2 separate regions of the Homo sapiens genome follow, and region 2 is linked to region 1. Evidence: fine-mapped expression QTL. A gene starts in region 1. The other region holds a variant in brackets. All regions are shown on one strand. Distances are from middle to middle.

The links. PIP is the estimated chance that this variant, and not a neighbour inherited with it, causes the effect. A credible set is the group of variants that fine-mapping cannot tell apart.
Region 2: its variant is the best candidate, but not a certain one, in a credible set for the expression of ANKRD13A in testis (GTEx, PIP 0.90).

The regions. Positions count from the first base shown.
Region 1 is chr12:109,995,593-110,004,245 of GRCh38, forward strand. It overlaps ANKRD13A (ankyrin repeat domain 13A), which reads left to right and starts at 3,838. Exons shown (of 15, transcript NM_033121.2): 1 at 3,838-4,192. The coding sequence starts at 4,097. It overlaps GIT2 (GIT ArfGAP 2), which reads right to left and starts at 776. Exons shown (of 20, transcript NM_057169.5): 1 at 581-776. The coding sequence starts at 632. RefSeq lists enhancers at 47-96, 787-946, 3,562-3,751 and silencers at 427-516, 3,832-3,951, 3,962-4,051.
Region 2 is chr12:109,406,679-109,415,331 of GRCh38, forward strand. It overlaps MYO1H (myosin IH), which reads left to right. Exons shown (of 32, transcript NM_001101421.4): 9 at 111-182; 10 at 1,116-1,235; 11 at 2,879-2,946; 12 at 3,285-3,390; 13 at 4,010-4,090; 14 at 5,216-5,307. Among named protein-coding and RNA genes, the nearest start is that of LINC01486, 52 kb to the left of the region's middle. The variant C/A (reference allele first, on the strand shown) is at 4,584.

The DNA of each region.
Region 1 (8,653 bases):
CAGATCCTCAAACTTGAGACAAGCACTGCCTCCTAAGTGCTGGTTGTGTTTGGAAGACCCCGATCTCCTGGCAATTCTCCCGGGCAGAGTAGCTGTCGGATGTCAGCAGCGGGGAAGTCATCTACGGGGACCCTCTGGCGAGTCTCAGGGAGTGTCATCCTCCCCGGGCAGGACACCCAGGCGGAGAAAGGGTCTAGTGGGAGGTGACACCTGCAGCCTCTGGAGGCTGCAGCCGGGAGGACGCTCACATTTTACTTCTGTAATTGGCTTTCCTGTGGATTGCCCAAGCCCCTTCCTGTTGGGGGAGCAGCCCTGGCCCCCGTCACCTCCCCAGTTGGCCTAGGACGGAGGGAACGGGAGGGAACGAGAGGGAAGGGAGGGCCGCGAGGGACGGGGAGGGCGGCGGCCCCCTGCCCGCCCGGCTCTGACAGGCCCGGGACGGTTCCCACCCCAAGGCCGCCCAGGGACCTCTTCGTTGCGACCCTAGCCGCGGGATGCAGCCTGACCTGAGGGGGCGGCCCCGGGGTAGGGGTCCGGGCCAGGAAAGCAGAGGGGAGCGGGCCCGGCCGGTGCGACTCACCCGGCCCGCTGCAGTCAGCGCACACCTCGCTGCTCCGGAGCCGTTTCGACATGGCTCCCACCTCCCACCTGCGGGGAACTAGAGGCCGGGGGACAGCAAAGGCGGCGGTGGCGGCGGCGCTTCCGCTCTAACGGGTCCCAGCTGCGGCGGCGCTGACGGCGGCGCCTCTCCCCTCAGCGCCTTGCAGCCTTGGCACAGCACGCACGCGCGGGGAGGTGCCCTTCGGCGAGTGTCAGGTCATGTGACCGGAAAGGGCACTCTGCCTTGTCGCCATCTTGAGTGAGGGCAGGAGACTGCCCGAGTATCATCTGTCCTACCTTTAAATATTGAATTTGGGTCTTCTTCTCTGGCAGAGATTCCCCTCGTCCCAACTGATTAATACCAGGGGAAGTAGCAATATCTTGTGATGAGAACCCTGCAGCCACAACCTTCCTGAGGCAATCAATGGTCAAGTTCATTCATTCATTCCTTGATTCAACAAATGTTTATCAAGCACTTACCATGCTTTATATACTGTCCCAGCCACTGGAGAAACAGCAGTGAGCAAAGACTGAATTTCTAGTCCTTATGAAGCTTGCATTTTACTGGGGTAAAGTAAAATAAGAATATATTATATGATTCCAGGCTGGGCGTGGTGGCTCACTCTTGTAATCTCAACTCTTTGGAAGGCTGAGGCAGGAGGATCACTTGAGGCAGGAGTTCGAGACCAGCCTGGGCAACATGGTGAAACCCCATCTCTACTAAAAATACAAAAATTGGCCGGGCGCGGTGGCTCACGCCTGTAATCCCAGCACTTTGGGAGGCCGAGGCGGGTGGATCACGAGGTCAGGAGTTCAAGACCAGCCTGGCCAACATGGTGAAACCCCGTCTCTACTAAAAATACAAAAATTAGCCGGGCACAGTGGCAGGAGCCTGTAATCTCAGTTACTTGGGAGGCTGAGGCAGGAGCTTGAACCCAGGGGGTGGAGGTTGCAGTGAGCTGAGATCACGCCATTGCACTCCAGCATGGGCGACAGAGTGAGACTCCGTCTCAAAAAAAAAAAAAAAAAAAAAAAAATTAGCCGGGCGTGGTGGCGCATGCCTGTAATCCTAGATACTCAGGAGGCTGAGGCATGAGAATCGCTTGAGCCTGGGAGGTGGACGTTGCAGTGAGCAGAGATCGCGTCACTGCACTCCAGCCTGGGGGACAGAGCGAGACTGTCTCAAAAACAACTTCAACAACAACAACAAAAATAACAAAAAAGAATATATTAGATGATTCCTTAGGCTTCAGTTTTAATCTCATGTTCAAAATTAAGATAATGCATTGTTTACTTCTAGTCCACGATTTGTTTTTGTATGGCTTGCTACTTAAGAATGATTTTTACATTTTTAAAGGGTTGCGAGATGAAAATGAAGAAGAGAGAGAGGGAAATAAAGAAAAAGAGGAAGAAGAATATGCGACAAAACTTGTATGTGACCAGCAAAGTTAAACATTCATTTTGGCTAAGGACAGATGGAATAAATTATGGGAAAAATGTGATACACCTGCTGGATAGTAACCCCTCAGTAAATAGTAGCTCCCATAATTATGGATATTGCTATTATTTTCTAATTACTGTTTTTCTTCATATGCGTGGAATTTGAGAATAACAATAGCTAACATGGGATAATTTACAAAATGGTGTGAGATAAACACAATGAAATGAGGTAAATCAGTGTGAAGGAGAAAGGAGATGTGACCCTAATACCAATGACTACTTATTGTCTGTCTTACATATAAACACAGCTATGATCTCCATTCAGCAAATATTGAATGCCTGTTGTTAGCCAGGTACTATTTTGGTTTTAGATACTCTGGTAAGCAAAACGATGTGGTTCCTGTCATTATGGGGTTTTCTGATTAATGAGATAGGGAGATTTTCAATAAACACGGCATGATGAAGAAGAAGGAGAACGTTAAGTTGCAAAAGGCATCTGAAAGAATGAGAAGTGCTGGAAAAGGCCTCAGAAGCACTGGTCTTGAGTCCATCTCTACAGTGTGATAAATGTGTGATGGAGAAATAATCACAGAATTCCCACGCATTCCATGGTTAGAGTCTCCGGGTGCCATCCTGGTGCTCCTGCATCCTGTTTTGGTTTAACAACTCACAAATCTTCTGGGCTCCACATCTGTGGAGAATGGATTAGGTTGGGATTCTTGAACAGCTGTTGTTGCAGGCATCTGAAGAGCTGGATGTGCATACACTCAGAGGGCAGAGGGAATGTTTTCACAATGCATTAAATAGCTTCATCCAGCTATGTGGTCTAGTTGTAGACAGCTGAGCTGAAGCAGCAGCAGAAAGTTCAAGCCCATGAGTAGCTAGCTGTAAGTTGATTTGGTTCTTCATTGAGTCAAGGAGGCATAGTGCCTGAAACTCAAAGAATAAACTTCATATTCGCAGACTGTGGTCAAATATGTATATTATTTATCAGTCCTTTCAGCCATAACCTCAAATCCAAAAAGCTAGCTTAAAAATGACATTCATACATGGACTAAATCACCACCATAGTTAGCTATTGAATCATAACCCGGTTCGGAGTTCAAATAGAAGCGGTTCTCAACTGAGGACGATTTTTCTCCCCGAGACGACATTTGGCAATATCTGGAGAGACATGTTTTGGGGAGTGCTACTGGCATTGAGTGGGGAGAAAGACCAGGGCAACTGCTCAGCATCCTACAAGGACCGGACAACCCCCACACAAAAACTGCCCAGTTCAATATGTGCCGAGGTTGAGAAATCATGAAGTAGAAATATCCCCTTTTATGCAAATACTGTATTTGAAGCCACTTCGCCAGGGTTTAGCGTTCCTCCTTCAAAAATTGTCCGGTGTTGCCCACTTCCAAAATGGCTTTTGACCCGTCGTGGAAGCATCTGTCCTGCTCCAAAAAGGCTGCAAGGGTGTCGGCAGCTGGAATGGTTTGGTCCGGGGCTCAGTTGTCACCCCCTGACTTCAGAGCCAATGGAAGAGGCCCAGTTGTGGACCGAACCACATGGGGCTACTGGAGCAGGGGGAAAGAAGCTGGGGACAGGTAGACGGAACTTTCCGCGTGGAGATCTTTGGCCAAGAGAATGAGCCTCAGCTCTGTTCTGTGGGCTGCACTGAGTTTCTCGGTGTGAGCTGGAGGTGGGTGCAATGGCGCGGACCCCGGACCCGGTGCCCAAGGTCGCCTATCCCCGCCGCGGCATGCGGTGGTTCGCTCTCCGCACTTCCCTGTTTGGGGCAGTTAGGTCCGCAGAAGTCTGTCCGCGAGCTGTCAGCGCGGGCGGGAACGCCGCGGGGCGCGGGGTGGGCGCGGCCGACCTGGTCCCTGAGCCGGCCGGCGACCCCGGACCTCCCGCGCGCCCCGCACCCGACCGGCTCAGCCGGCCGGCAGCGTAACACGCCCTACGCTCGCTTGCTCGCCGGCCTCAGGGCAGGCAGGCGGGCGCGGGAGACCCCGCCGGGGCCGAGACTTGGGGCGGGCGACGAGGACCAGGTTACGGCCTCCTCGCCATGTCCTCGGCCTGCGACGCGGGCGACCACTACCCCCTGCACCTCCTAGTCTGGAAAAACGACTACCGGCAGCTCGAGAAGGAGCTGCAGGGCCAGGTGAGGGGCGGGGCGGGGGTCCGTCTCCCGGTGGGGACTTCGGGGAATCGGGGGTCGTTTCGCCTCCCTGAGCCCATTTCCAGCCCTCTGTCCCCGGGATCCCCAGACCCCTTCCACTTTGCAGGTGTGGGACAGTCCTAATAATAGGACACGTATCGAGTGCTTACCGTGCGACGGGCTTTTTAAATATCTTCTCTCTTCACCTTTCCAATAACGCTGGTGGGTAGGTACTGTTACTTTTCCACTGGACAGAGAAGGAAACAGGTCCTCAGACGCTACGTGCCTTGTGCGAGGCCGCCCCGCTGATAAATGCCAAGTCGGGATTTTAACTCGGGCCGGCTGGCTCCGGAATGCACCGTCTTAACCATTTTTAGGTTCTGCTGCCTCAAAGACGTAAGAATAGCACACTCTCCTTGTTGTAAGGAAGGGCTTGGTTGGTTTTGGAGTCCAGGTTCTAACTCGCCCTGTGACCTTGGGCAAGGCATTTTCCCTCTCTGGCCGACGTTAACTTAGCTGTAGAATGAGGATGTTGGTGCTGGGGCAGAACCCAACACTTGACTCTATTGATAGGTCTGGGGTGAGGTCCAGGTGCCGCATTTTTAACAAACTCCCCAGGGAGGCTGATACCTAGCAAAGTTTGAGAATCACGGGTTCTCAGGCTCCTTAAAATCCCTTCCTGTTCTAAAGTGCTTTGATGCTTTAATCTTTTCATTATTGCTATCTCTTTAAAGCAGTAGTGCTCTCAGTTGGAGGTGATTTTGCACCCACGACCCCCCGGGGACATTTGGCAATGTATGGGACATTTTTGGTTGTTGAAAGTGGGGAGTGGGTGCTTCTGGTAGTGGGTAGAGGCCGGTTATGCTGCTCAACATCCTACAATGGCCAAGACAGCCCCCCGCAACTAAGACTTCTCCGGCCCCCAAAGCCGACAGCGTCTTGGTTGAGAAACTCTGCTTTTCTTTCTTTCCTTCTTTTTTTTTTTTTTTTTTTGAGACTGAGTTTCGCTCTTGTTGCCCGGGCTGGAGTGCAATGGTGCGATCTCGGCTCACTGCAACCTCCGCCTCCTGGGTTCAAGCGATTCTTCTGCCTCAGCCCCCCAAGTAACTGAGATTACAGGGATGCACCACCACGCCCGGCTAATTTTGTATTTTTAGTAGAGATGGGGTTTCTCCATGTTGGTCAGGCTGGTCTCAAACTCCCGACCTCAGGTGATCCGCCCGCCTCAGCCTCCCAAAGTGCTGGGATTACAGGTGTGAGCCACCACGCCTGGCTGAGAAACTCTGCTTTTAAAGTCTCCCAACAATTCTGGGAGGTATTGGTGCCCTCAAGTTTCAAGCTAACAAACTTAGCAGTTAGGATGAGGATTTGTGATTACCCCTGAAATCTAGTATGGTTGTTCTTGTTGACTTCATACATTTTATCCAGTGTCTTACAGACCTGGTTTTTGAATGGCTCAAAATTGGTGCTATAATTGTCAAGAAATTGTAGAGGAAGAGGAGGATTGTTTGTCTTATGGTTGACAAAAATTGAGAAGGTTAGCATTACTCCATTTGGTGAATGGGTGCTGCAAGCTGTGTGCTTGCAACCTGCCATATTTAAGGTGGTTGAGCCCTCACCGAAGTCCAAAATTACCCTCTTTTCTTTTCTGTTTCTTTTTTTTTTTTTTTCTTTTTGAGATGGAGTCTCGCTCTGTCATTCAGACTTGAGTGCAGTGGCGCGATCTCAGGTCACTGCAACCTTCGCCTCCCGGGTTCCAGCGATTCTCCTGCCTCAGCCTCCTCAGTAGCTGGGATTACAGGCTAATTTTTGTATTTTTAGTGGAGGTGGTATTTTGTCATGTTGGCCATGCTGGTTTCAACCCCTGGCCTCAAGCAATCCGCCCACCTCTACCTCCCAAAGTGCTGGGATTACAGGCATGAGCCACTGTTGCCGGCCTTTTTTCATTTAAAAAGAATTCCAGATACGATAAACTTTTGTGAGAGTCATCGTTCTTAATTAGATGACAGACCAACTATTTAAGAGTTAAGGAGATATGACACATGCCCTCAGACTAAATGATTCACCATTAGGCATTTTAGTATACTGATCATTTAATTCCTTTTCTATTACTAGACATGGTACAGAGGTAAAAACTGTAAGACTCAGCTAGGACACTTTAAAAATGACCAGTTTTGGTTTTTAGGAATCTACTTCTTTTGGTGCCCAGGCTGGTCTTGAACTCTTGTACTCAAGTGATCTGCCCGCCTCAGCCTCCCAAAGTGCTGGGATTACAGGCATGAGCCACTGTGCCTTGCCCAAATCCTGTATTCTTAACCCCTACTATACTTCTTTCAGTAAAAATGACTTCATTTCAAGATTATGGAGAATAAATAAGGAAGATAATGGACCTGAAAGTGCAGGCATATGGTAATTGGAAACAATATTTACTAGTAGCTGCTGCTATTATAATCATCATTTGTAAACCTGGGGATTGAGCTTTTTTGCTCTATATTCCAGTTTTTCTGCAAGGAAGATGTATTGATTGCATAATTAAAAACAAAAAATTCTTAAGTCCGGGCACGGTGGCTCATGCCTGGAATCTCAGCACTTTGGGAGGCTGAGGCAGGCAGATCGCCTGAGGTCAGGAGTTGGAGACCAGCCTGACCAACACGGTGAAACCCCGTCTCTACTAAAAATACAAAAATAGCTGGATGTGGTGGCACGTGCTTGTAATCCCAGCTACTCAGGAGGTTGAGGCAGGAGAATCGCTTGAATCCAGGAGGCTGAGGTTGCAGTGAGCCAAGATCGTGCCACTGCACTCCAGGCTGGGAGACAGAGCGAGGCTCCGACTCAAAAAACAAAAAAAACCCAAAAAATTCTTATCACCCCAGCAATAAAGTGGCTGTTTCCCTTAATGTTTTGTTTGCTGGTGAGTTTCTGCTGTCAGTTTCCTCATTCCGTCTATCACCTGATTGAGACTTGGAGCATGTATACTGATAGCTGTAAGAATTTTTTTCCAGGTTTTTTGTTCCTGTTCCAGGAACAGCAACACAAGAAAGAATCAAGTTTATCCAGATGAAGAGGATAAGCACGTGTTTCTGTGTGTGTGAGCCAGCCCCAATCCCACTGTCTCACTAATAGCAGGCAGTTGTGTAACTATGCCAACTACCAGATTGTTTCAGGCCTTCATTTGATCAGCAGAGGCATTTAATAAAGTGCCTCTTAACCCATCAGCTCATTAATATTCAGTGGGGCCTTGAAGTTGGTTGCTGAAGTTGAAACTGTTTGTGTTCTGCTTATGTCGTTGGCCGCTTAGCTAAAGAAGTCTGTTAAACTTCTTTGGCCTTCTTACTGATGGTGAGACATGAACACTTAAGGGGACAGATGCAAAGGTGAGTCAGTGTACCTTAGACAGGGTTGGAAAACCTGGGTTGTGTGAGGTGGAGGGTGGCAAATGAGGCCTGACTCTAGAGCCAGGCTCCCTGTTTAGGAAGCCAGCAGGTGAAAAGTATAGCACCTAGGTAAGAGGAGGACATTCCTGGGGTTCTCACTCCAGCCTGGGGCAGGCCAGGTGAGGCCCCGGGCACAGATTCAAATCGCTGAGCCATGGGCTAGGCATCCAAGATGAAGAGCCTAGAGCCTGCTCTCCTCATGTGCCCCCTTGGTCATCGGGGGTTCAAGCTCACCTTAGGAAACTGGCCTCAAGATTCCTGTTTCCACTGACTCAGCGTGGGGGCCACACAGGACCAGGATGGTCTGAGAGTGAAGAGGAGTGAGGGTGGTTGTCTGTGTTGAGAGAGAGGAGGACTAGCCAGCAGCCTCTTGCTGGAGTCCCCCTAAAGGTGACAGTGAGTTTATGAAGCACTTCCTGCATGCCAGGTACCAAGGCACAGGGGAACTGATAATTCACCTGAGGCTAGTGGGCAAGCTGGAAGGGGTGTCCAGTTGTCTGGTTCTGCAGCCTGGCCTCAGAGCTCGGCAGGAGGATGGCAAGATAGTAAAGAGGGCTTTTGATTGAGGAGGCTGAGGTGGGGTCAGTGCTTGAGGACAGGAGTTCAAGACCAGCCTGGCCAATATAGTAAGACTCCGTCTCCTTAAAAAAAAATTTTTTTTGGCTGGGCACGGTGGCTCACGCCTGTACTCCCAGCTCTTTGGGAGGCCAAGGCAGGTGGATCATGAGGTCAGGAGTTCAAGACTAGCCTGGCCAACATAGTGAAACCCCATCTTTGCTAAAAATATGAAAAATTAGCTGGGCATGGTGGCGGGTGCTTGTAATCCCAGCTACTTGGGAGGCTGAGGTGGGAGAATCGCTTGAACCTGGGAGGCGGAGGTTGCAGTGAGCCAAAATCGCACCATTGCACTCTAGGCCCGGCAACAGTATGAGACTCCATCTCAAAAAAAAAATAAATTTTTTTTAAGGCTTTTGAGCAAGAAAAGTGGATGAGCTGAAATGAGCAAATAGGAAGGAAACTCCTAGTTAAA
Region 2 (8,653 bases), 590 kb before region 1:
CCACCACATTCCCACCTGGGTAACAGAGCCATACCTTGTCTCTAAAAAAATAATAAAAAGCAAGTAAAACTGCGTCACTGAATAGCATTCTGGATTTCTTTTACATGCAGCTCCTGGGGGTCCACCCATCAGTCCTTCTGGAAGCTCTCACCCACAGAAAAATTGAAGCCAAAACTGAGGAGGTAAAAATGGCTATAGGTGGAAATGTGCCAGCCCTCCCTGCTGCTGCTGCCTCCCTCGATAACAGCAGGGTGGTGGCCTCAGGGGAGGCCAAACCTTTGATCCTAGCTCACCAGGCCCTGCGTGGTCCAGCTCCTGTGGAGTGTCCTGCCTCATCTTCCCCCATCACCATCACCACCACCACACCAATGCTAGCAATCCACACCTCATACTGTCTATGTCTTCCCTCCACAGGAGTCTTTGCACATGCTATTCCTTCTGCTGGAACACTGTTCCCGGTGCTTTATCTAGTTAACTCCTCTTCATCCTTCATTTCCTGGGGGTCACTTCCTCAAGGAGCCTTCTCTGATCCTCCCACCTCTACGTCAAAGCACCCTATGTATCTCTTGTAGCCCTTTCAACATGACTGTGATTCTTTGAATGTCTCTCCATCCCTCCCTACCCTCAAATGAACTGTGTGCCCATGAAGGTCAGGACTGTGTGTCTGGGTTACAGCTGTATCTCGGCAGCCCAGCACAGTGCCTGGCACACATGGGCACTCAAGAAAGAGCCATCATATGAACCAAAGACAAGAGTAGCATCTTCCCAGCATGTATCCTTTGCCAGTCATCATTAAACACTAGTTCAAGACTGTGTGTGGTGGCTTATACCTGTAATCACTTTAGGAGGCTGCAGTGGGAGGATTCCTTGAGCCCAGGAGTTCAAGACCAGCCTGGGCAACATGGCTAGACCACATTTCTACAAAAAAAAAAAAAAAAAAAAAAGCGAGGCATGGTGGTGGGCACCTGTAGTCCCAGCTACTGCATTCCAGGCTGGGCAGCAGAGCGAGACCCTGTCTCATTATTTTATTTTTTTTTTAAGAAAAAAGACTTCTTTGAACACTCTGGGGGCTTCTTTTTTCCACCTATAATGATGCACCTTGTCATTCTTTTCAGGTGATCTGCCCGTTGACACTAGAACTCTCTGTCTACGCTAGAGATGCAATGGCAAAGGCTGTTTATGGACGAACGTTTACTTGGCTGGTCAACAAAATCAATTCCTCCTTAGTTAACAAGGTTGGTCAACGCATTTTGGATCCCTTGCTCTTGCTCACGTGGTGATGTTTTATAATCATCGTTTCTTTAAAGAATTTGGGAGGGAGAATGAACTGTGGGCGCCTCATGGGCAGAGATGGTGTCTTTCCCTATTCACATTTCCCATGTCTAGCATACAGTATGGGTGCATGCCGAATGACTTATACAATGTGTTCCAAAGCGTGCTGTGCATAGTGCTTGTGGTATGCCAGATAGCTTCAAGTGTACACAGAAACTTTTTATTTTTTATTTTTATTTTTAGAGACAAGATCTTGCTCTGTCACTCAGGCTGGGGTGCAGTGGTGCAATCATAACTTGCAACTTCCAGCTTCTGGGCTTAAGCAATTCTCCTACCTCAGCCTCCCAAATAGCTGGAACTACAGTTGCATACCACCATGCCCTGCTAATTTTAAAAAAAAATTTTGTAGAGATGAGGTCTTGCTATGTTGTCCAGGCTGGTCTCAAACTCCCAGGCCCAAGCCATCTTCCCACTGCTGCCTTCCTAAGTGCTGGGATTACAGGCATGAACCACCACAAATCTTTAAATTTCAACAGTAATATATTCACCTGACATTTTAAAAATTTCAACAGAAGCATATTTTAACATATTTACGAAAAAATATAGCCCTTGAAACTCACGCTTCAGTCACGTTTCCTTTTCAAGTGGAATTATTTAAATAAAAAAGGGATTTAATCCAAGCTAAAAATTAAGAAATGATACATGGATGGGGAGGGGATATGTGGATGTGACAAAATTCATGGAGGTAGGACACAAAAGATGATTTTGGAGGCAGTGACTTAGGACACTCATACAGAGTATTTAATTGTGTCCCTTTAAAACTAAATAAATACATTATCTCTTTTTTATTTTTTTTTGAGACGGAGTCCCACTTTGTCGTTCAGGCTGAAGTGCAGTGGCACAATCTTGGCTCACTGCAGCCTCCACCTCTGGGGTTCAAGCGATTCTTGTGCCTCAAACTCCCAAGTAGTGGGATTACAGGTGCATGCCACCATGCCTGGCTAATTTTTGTAATTTTTTAGTAGAAATGGGGTTTCGCCATGTTGGCCAGGCTGGTCTCAAACTCCTGGCCACAAGTGATCCGCCTGCCTCAGCCTCCCAAAGTGCTGGGATTGCAGGCGTGAGCCACCACGCCTGGCCTGAAATAAATACATCATCTTTAAATACCCACCCTGGCCTGAGGGTACTTGGTCCTCTTACTTGGATAGGCATCTTCTTGTCTGTCTATAGGTCCTTTTCTCCATCTCCTTCTCCTTCTTCTTCTCCTTCTTCTTTTTCTTCTTCTTCTTCTTCTTCTTTTTTTTTTTTTTTTTTTTTTTTTTTTGATTGTACATGGGCTTGGGAGGCTGAGGACACCTGAACAAAGAAGTGAATCAGAAGGGGAAGGTCTGACTACACAGGTGATGGCTATGGAAGCTGCAGTGGGATCTGAGCAGGCAGGAGCAGCAGGCTGGGGAAATTACTTCCACCCAAAGATTTTCCGCATTGTTGGAGACAGAGGACATATGAGCTTTAGCGCCAAGTCCCAGTTTAGGGGAGCAGCAACAGTTTTGAGTAGCACAAAGGAAAAGACCTAACTATGAATGGGGTGTGTTATTTTGACCAGGATTTCACCAGGAAAACTGTAATTGGATTACTGGACATCTATGGGTTTGAAGTCTTTGACAAGAATGGGTATGTTTTGTCATTACCTACCTATCTGTCTTTTGCCCTTTTTTAAGATTTCAGTCGAGATTTAAATCTTTCGCTAATGTTACTAGATTGATTTCCCTGTCCCCAGAAAGTCTCTAGATTTACATAGTTTCTAACTCACAGACCATCCTAGATGTGGACTAACCATAAAAATGCAAATATATTTTCACTTGACTCTTATGATCTATTTAGTAAATTATTTTATTAATGAGGACTTTGCTTTTTCTTTATTAAAAAGTATGCCTAAAAAGAATATAATTTGTTTAAAAAAATTGTTCTCTTCATATAACTTTAGTTACTTAAATCTTTTGTATCTCTAGTTTTGAACAGTTCTGTATAAATTACTGCAATGAGAAACTCCAGCAACTGTTAATTGAGAGGACTCTAAAAGCAGAACAGGCAGAATATGAAATGGAAGGCATAGAGGTAAACATTTTGATGTTTTCTCCTCATCTGATTTCTTCATCTAGCTAAAGACTTCTTTTTTTAATTTAATTAATTTTTTTTTTATTTTTTTGAGACAAGATCTCACTCTGTCGCCCAGGCTGGAGTCCAGTGGCACAATCATGACTGGTTGCAACCTCCACCTCCTGGGCTCGAGTGATCCTCCTGCCTCAGCCTCCTAAGTAGCTGGGATCACAGGCACATGCCACCATGCCTGGCTAATTGTTTTACTTTTTGTAGAGACAGGGTCTCTCTATGTTGCCCAGGCTGGTCTCGAACTCCTGGACTCAAGTGATCTTCCTGCCTCAACCTCCCAAAGTACTGGGATTACAGGTGTGAGCCACTGTGCCCAACCACTAAAGACATTTAACTGAAGTATTATTTCATTGGAGATATTCCTGATTAGTACTGAGGATTAATTTTTAGGCCTTCTCTGCTTATTTCCTGGGAAATTATTTTGATATTCAGAAAATATAATTTGTTTAAGGTTGAATATAAAAACTAGATTTTGAAAAAAGATGTTTTAGAAAACCAATTTAAAACCAACTTTGATGCTCATCTAAATATTTCTTGGAGAATTCATTCCTCTTTGTCATTTTAGTGGGAGCCAATTAAATATTTCAACAACAAGATCATCTGTGATTTGGTAGAAGAGAGACATAAAGGAATCATATCTATTCTGGTGAGAAAAATGAATGTTGCATTAGAGCTATTCACCCGGCACTTACAACTCTTGGAAGAACTTTTTCCCAGGCTTAAAAAGGGTTGAGCCAGGCCAGGCACGGTGGCTCACGCCTGTAATTCCAACACTTTGGGAGGCCGAGGTGGGTGGATCACCTGAGGTCAGGAGTTAGAAAGCAGCCTGAACAGTATGGTGTAACCCTGTCTCTACTAAAAATACAAAAATTAGCCGGGCATGATGGCATGCGCCTGTAGTCCCAGCTACTTGGGAGGCTGAAACAGGAGAATTGCTTGAACCCCGGAGGCAGAGGTTGCAGTGAGCTGAGATCATACCACTGCGCTCCAGCCTGGGCGACAGAGGGAGACTCCATCTCAAAAAATAAAAATAAAAATAAAAAAAGGGTTGAGCCAGGGTGGTCTCTAACTCCTGGGCTCAAGCAGTCCTCCCACATCAGCCTCCTGAGTAGCTGGGACTACAAAGGTATACCACCACA[C/A]CTGGCTAAATTTTAAAAATTTTGTAGAGACAGGGTTTCACCATGTGCCTGTGCTGGTCTTGAACTCCTGGGCTCAAGACATCCTCCCACCTTGGCCTGCCAAATGCCAGGATTATAGGTGTGAACCACTTCACCCAACCACACCTGTAATTTTTAAGATGCCAACTAAATGGTATCATTCTTGAGGACGAAAAATAGGAAATAGAAAAATGAACTTAAGAAATATAAAAACTTCGACTTAACTGGTTTTATACCTTTCTTTCCATGAGGGCTTTTCTTCTACAACAAGAGTCTGTACACATGGTAATCATGGTCAGTGATGACTGGTTTAGAGAAAACGAGGTTGGTCATAGTAGCTGTGTGGAGTATCCTTGGGAAGACTTTGAGTCAGATGGTCAGAGTGTTGCCTTTTCATGGGATATTCAGGCCCTCTGGTTCCATGGTCCCCTTATCAAATCTTAGAAGCCAAACACATGGATTAAGCCCTTCTTCCCCCCAGAATGTTCACCTGCACTTACATGAATTGACAGTCTTTTAGTCCAGTACTTTCTGTTCCAGCTGGTGAAAGCATTTAAACTTGGCATTGATGGAGTGTGGTGCTGTGGATTGAGGCTTCTCTTTTTCTTTTGAAGGATGAAGAATGCATTCGGCCTGGTCCTGCTACAGACTTGAGTTTCCTGGAGAAATTGGAAGAGAAAGTGGGCAAACATGCACACTTCGAAACGTACATACTTTATTTTACCAGATTTTGCATGGGGGAAGATGATTGTGTCTCCATTTTCTTTAGTATTTGGATAATGTTCTTCAAGAGAACAACTACTTCATACATAAAAATATCTTTATGTATACCACTCATAGATGTGCCAGACCTTTGTTAGTAGAAATTAAACCTAAATGAATTATAATTTTTTTTTGAGACATGGTCTCAGTCTGTCACCTAGGCTGGAGTGCAGTGACGTGATCACAGCTCACTGCAGCCTCAACCTCCCAGGCTCAAGTGATCCTCCAACCTCAGCCTCCCAAGAAGCCAGGACTACAAACATACACCACAATGCCTGGCTAATTTTTATATTTTTTGTAAAGACAGGGTTTCACCCTGTTGCCCAGGCTGGTCTGGAACTCCTGGCTTCAAGCGATCCACCCATCTTGGCCTCCCAAAGTGCTGGGATTACTGCTGTGAGCCATCGTGCCCAGACACAAGTATGATTTTTTAAAAAGATTTTATATCTTCCTTTATTCAGTGATCATTATATTTTGGACATGTCTATGTACATGAAATAATCTTTTCAAAAATTCAGGTATAAAATACAGTGATATGTGTAGATCTGAAATGTACAACCTGATAAATTTTTGTACTTGTATGTGCCTGTGTAACCACCATGCGGATCAGATATAGAGTACCACATCCCACAAGATCAACTAGACATTTAACTTAGTCTTTGAGGTAAGCAGGAGAGAATTTAAGAGCATATGCTGGAGTCATTAAGACCTGGTTTGTTTGCTTGTTTCTTTTTTGTTTTTTGGTTTTGTTTTGTTTTGTTTGAGATGGAGTCTCACTCTGTTGCCCAGGCTGGAGTGCAGTTGTGCAATCTCTGCTCACTACAACCTCCGCCTCCTGGGTTTAAACGATTCTCCTGCCTCAGCCTCCCAAGTAGCTGGGATTACAAGCACTTGCCACTACGCCCGGCTAATTTGTTGTTGTTGTTGTTGTTGTTGTTGTTATTATTATTATTTGAGACAGAGTCTTGCTCTGTTGCCCAGGCTGAGTGTAGTAGGGCGATCTCGGCTCACTGCAACCTCCACCTCCCGGGTTCAAGTGATTCTGCTTCAGCCTCACAAGTAGCTGGGACTACAGGTGTGCGCCATCACGCCTGGCTATTTTTTTGTATTTTTAGTAGAGGTGGGCTTTCACCATGTTAGCCAGGCTGGTCTCGAACTCCTGACCTCAAGTGATCTGCCCACCTCAGTGTCCCAAAGTGCTGGGATTACAGAAATGAGCCACCATGCCTGGCCCCAAGACCAAATGAATGCTCCTGCATTTGTGTTTTCCCTGCTATACAAGATGGGGGTTATTAACATACCTACCATCCAATTTTGTAAATGATGCCATAAATTGCCTAGTGCAATCTCTGGCCATGGTAAAGACTTAGTAAATGGTGGTGGCTTTCTCAGACCTGTTGTAGAATACTGAAAGGATATAAGTAAATGAAATTGCAAAGGATAAGTACATGAAATTGCATAGTGAATCAAGAATGGAAAAATAAATTGGGGTACATTCACAAATGGAATAATATATCACTGTGCAATGAATAATCTATAACTGCATGCAATGATGTAAGTAAATTACACAAATGAGTACATACTGTGGCCGAGCGTGCTGGTTCATGCCTATAATCCCAGCACTTTGAGAGGCCGAGGCAGCTGGATCACCTGAGGTCAAGAGTTCAAGACCAGCCTGACCAACATGGTGAAACCCTGTCTCTACTAAAAATACAAAAATTAGCCAGGCATGGTGGTACACGCCTGTAGTTCCAGCTACTCAGGAGGCTGAGGCAGGAGAATCGCTTGAACCTGGGAGGTAGAGGTTGCAGTGAGCCGAGATTGCGCCACTGCACTCCAGCCTGGGCAACAGAGCAAGACTCCATCTCAAAGAGAAAAAAAAGGACTACATTCTATATAATTCCATTGCAATGCAATGCATACAACTGGGTAAAAATTCACTTATGCTGCTACATGTCTGGTTGCGACTAGAAAGGGCTCAAAGTGGGGGTTCTCAGGGACTGGTAATGAATGCTCTGCTTCTTAATCTGGGTGCTGGTTGCACAGGCATATCGTTTTCAAAAATTCATTGAGCCGTACGCTTAGAATATATGTGTGCTGTCAATATGTATGACAGATTTAAGTAAAAGTCATTTTAAAAAATCAAGAATCTGGCCAGACACAGTGGCTCACACCTGTAATCCCAGCTGTTTGCGAGACCAAGACGAGTGGATAATCTGAGGTCAGGAGTTCAAGACCAGCCTGGCCAACATGGTGAAACCCCATCTCCACTAAAAATCCAAAAAATTAGCCAGGTGTGGTGGCTTACGCCTGTAATCCCAGCTACTCAGGAGGCTGAGGCAGGAGAATCGTCTGAACTCAGGAGGTGGAGGTTGCAGTAAGCCGAGATCACACCACTGCACTCCCGCCTGGGAGACAGAGTGAGACTCCATCTCAAAAAAAAAAAAAAAAAGAAAGAAAAAAAAAATCAAGAATCTGTAGAAACTGAAAACTGATGTTTTATGAGTATTTTAGTCTCTCAACATTATAAAAATATAAGATTTAAAATTGTTCTTTGTTACATCACCTAGAAAAACAAAAGTTAATTTATTATGCAAATACATGTGTTTCTGTGGCTCAGTTCTATACTTTTATTTCTCAGCATTTATGGGAAGAAAGGATCTAATTTTATTTTTTTATTTTTTGAGACAAGGTCTCACTCTGTTGCACAGGCTGGAGTCTAGTGGTATAATTATAGCTCACTGCAGCCTCAAATTCCTGGGCTCAAGCAATCCTCCCACCTCGGCCTCCTGAGTAGCTGGGACTACAAGGCACATGCTACCACTCCCAGCTAATTCTTTGTATTTTTTTTTTAAAGACAGGGTCTTGCTGTGTTGCCCAGACTAATCTCAAACTCCTGGCCTTAAACGATCCTCCTGCCTCAGCCTCCCAAAGTACTAGGATTATAGGTGTGAGCCACCATGCCCGGCCAAAGGATCTAATTTTAAAGAAATCTTGGTCTATGGCCAGAAAATAAGTAACAAAACTTCCTGGGAGCCTCCCTGTGTGGTGGCTTTCAATGTGGACCTAACTGATTGAAGACGTCTCTCTCTCACTCTTTGCTTCAGTTATTGGTGCCATTTTGTCTCAGTGAAGTAGAAAGTTCAACTCATGGGCCAGGCACGGTGGCTTAGGCCTGTAATCCCAGCACTTTGGTAGGCTGAGGCAGGCAGATCACGAGGTCAGGAGTTCGAGACCAGCCTGACCAACATGGTGAAACTCCATCTCTACTAAAAATACAAAAATTAGCC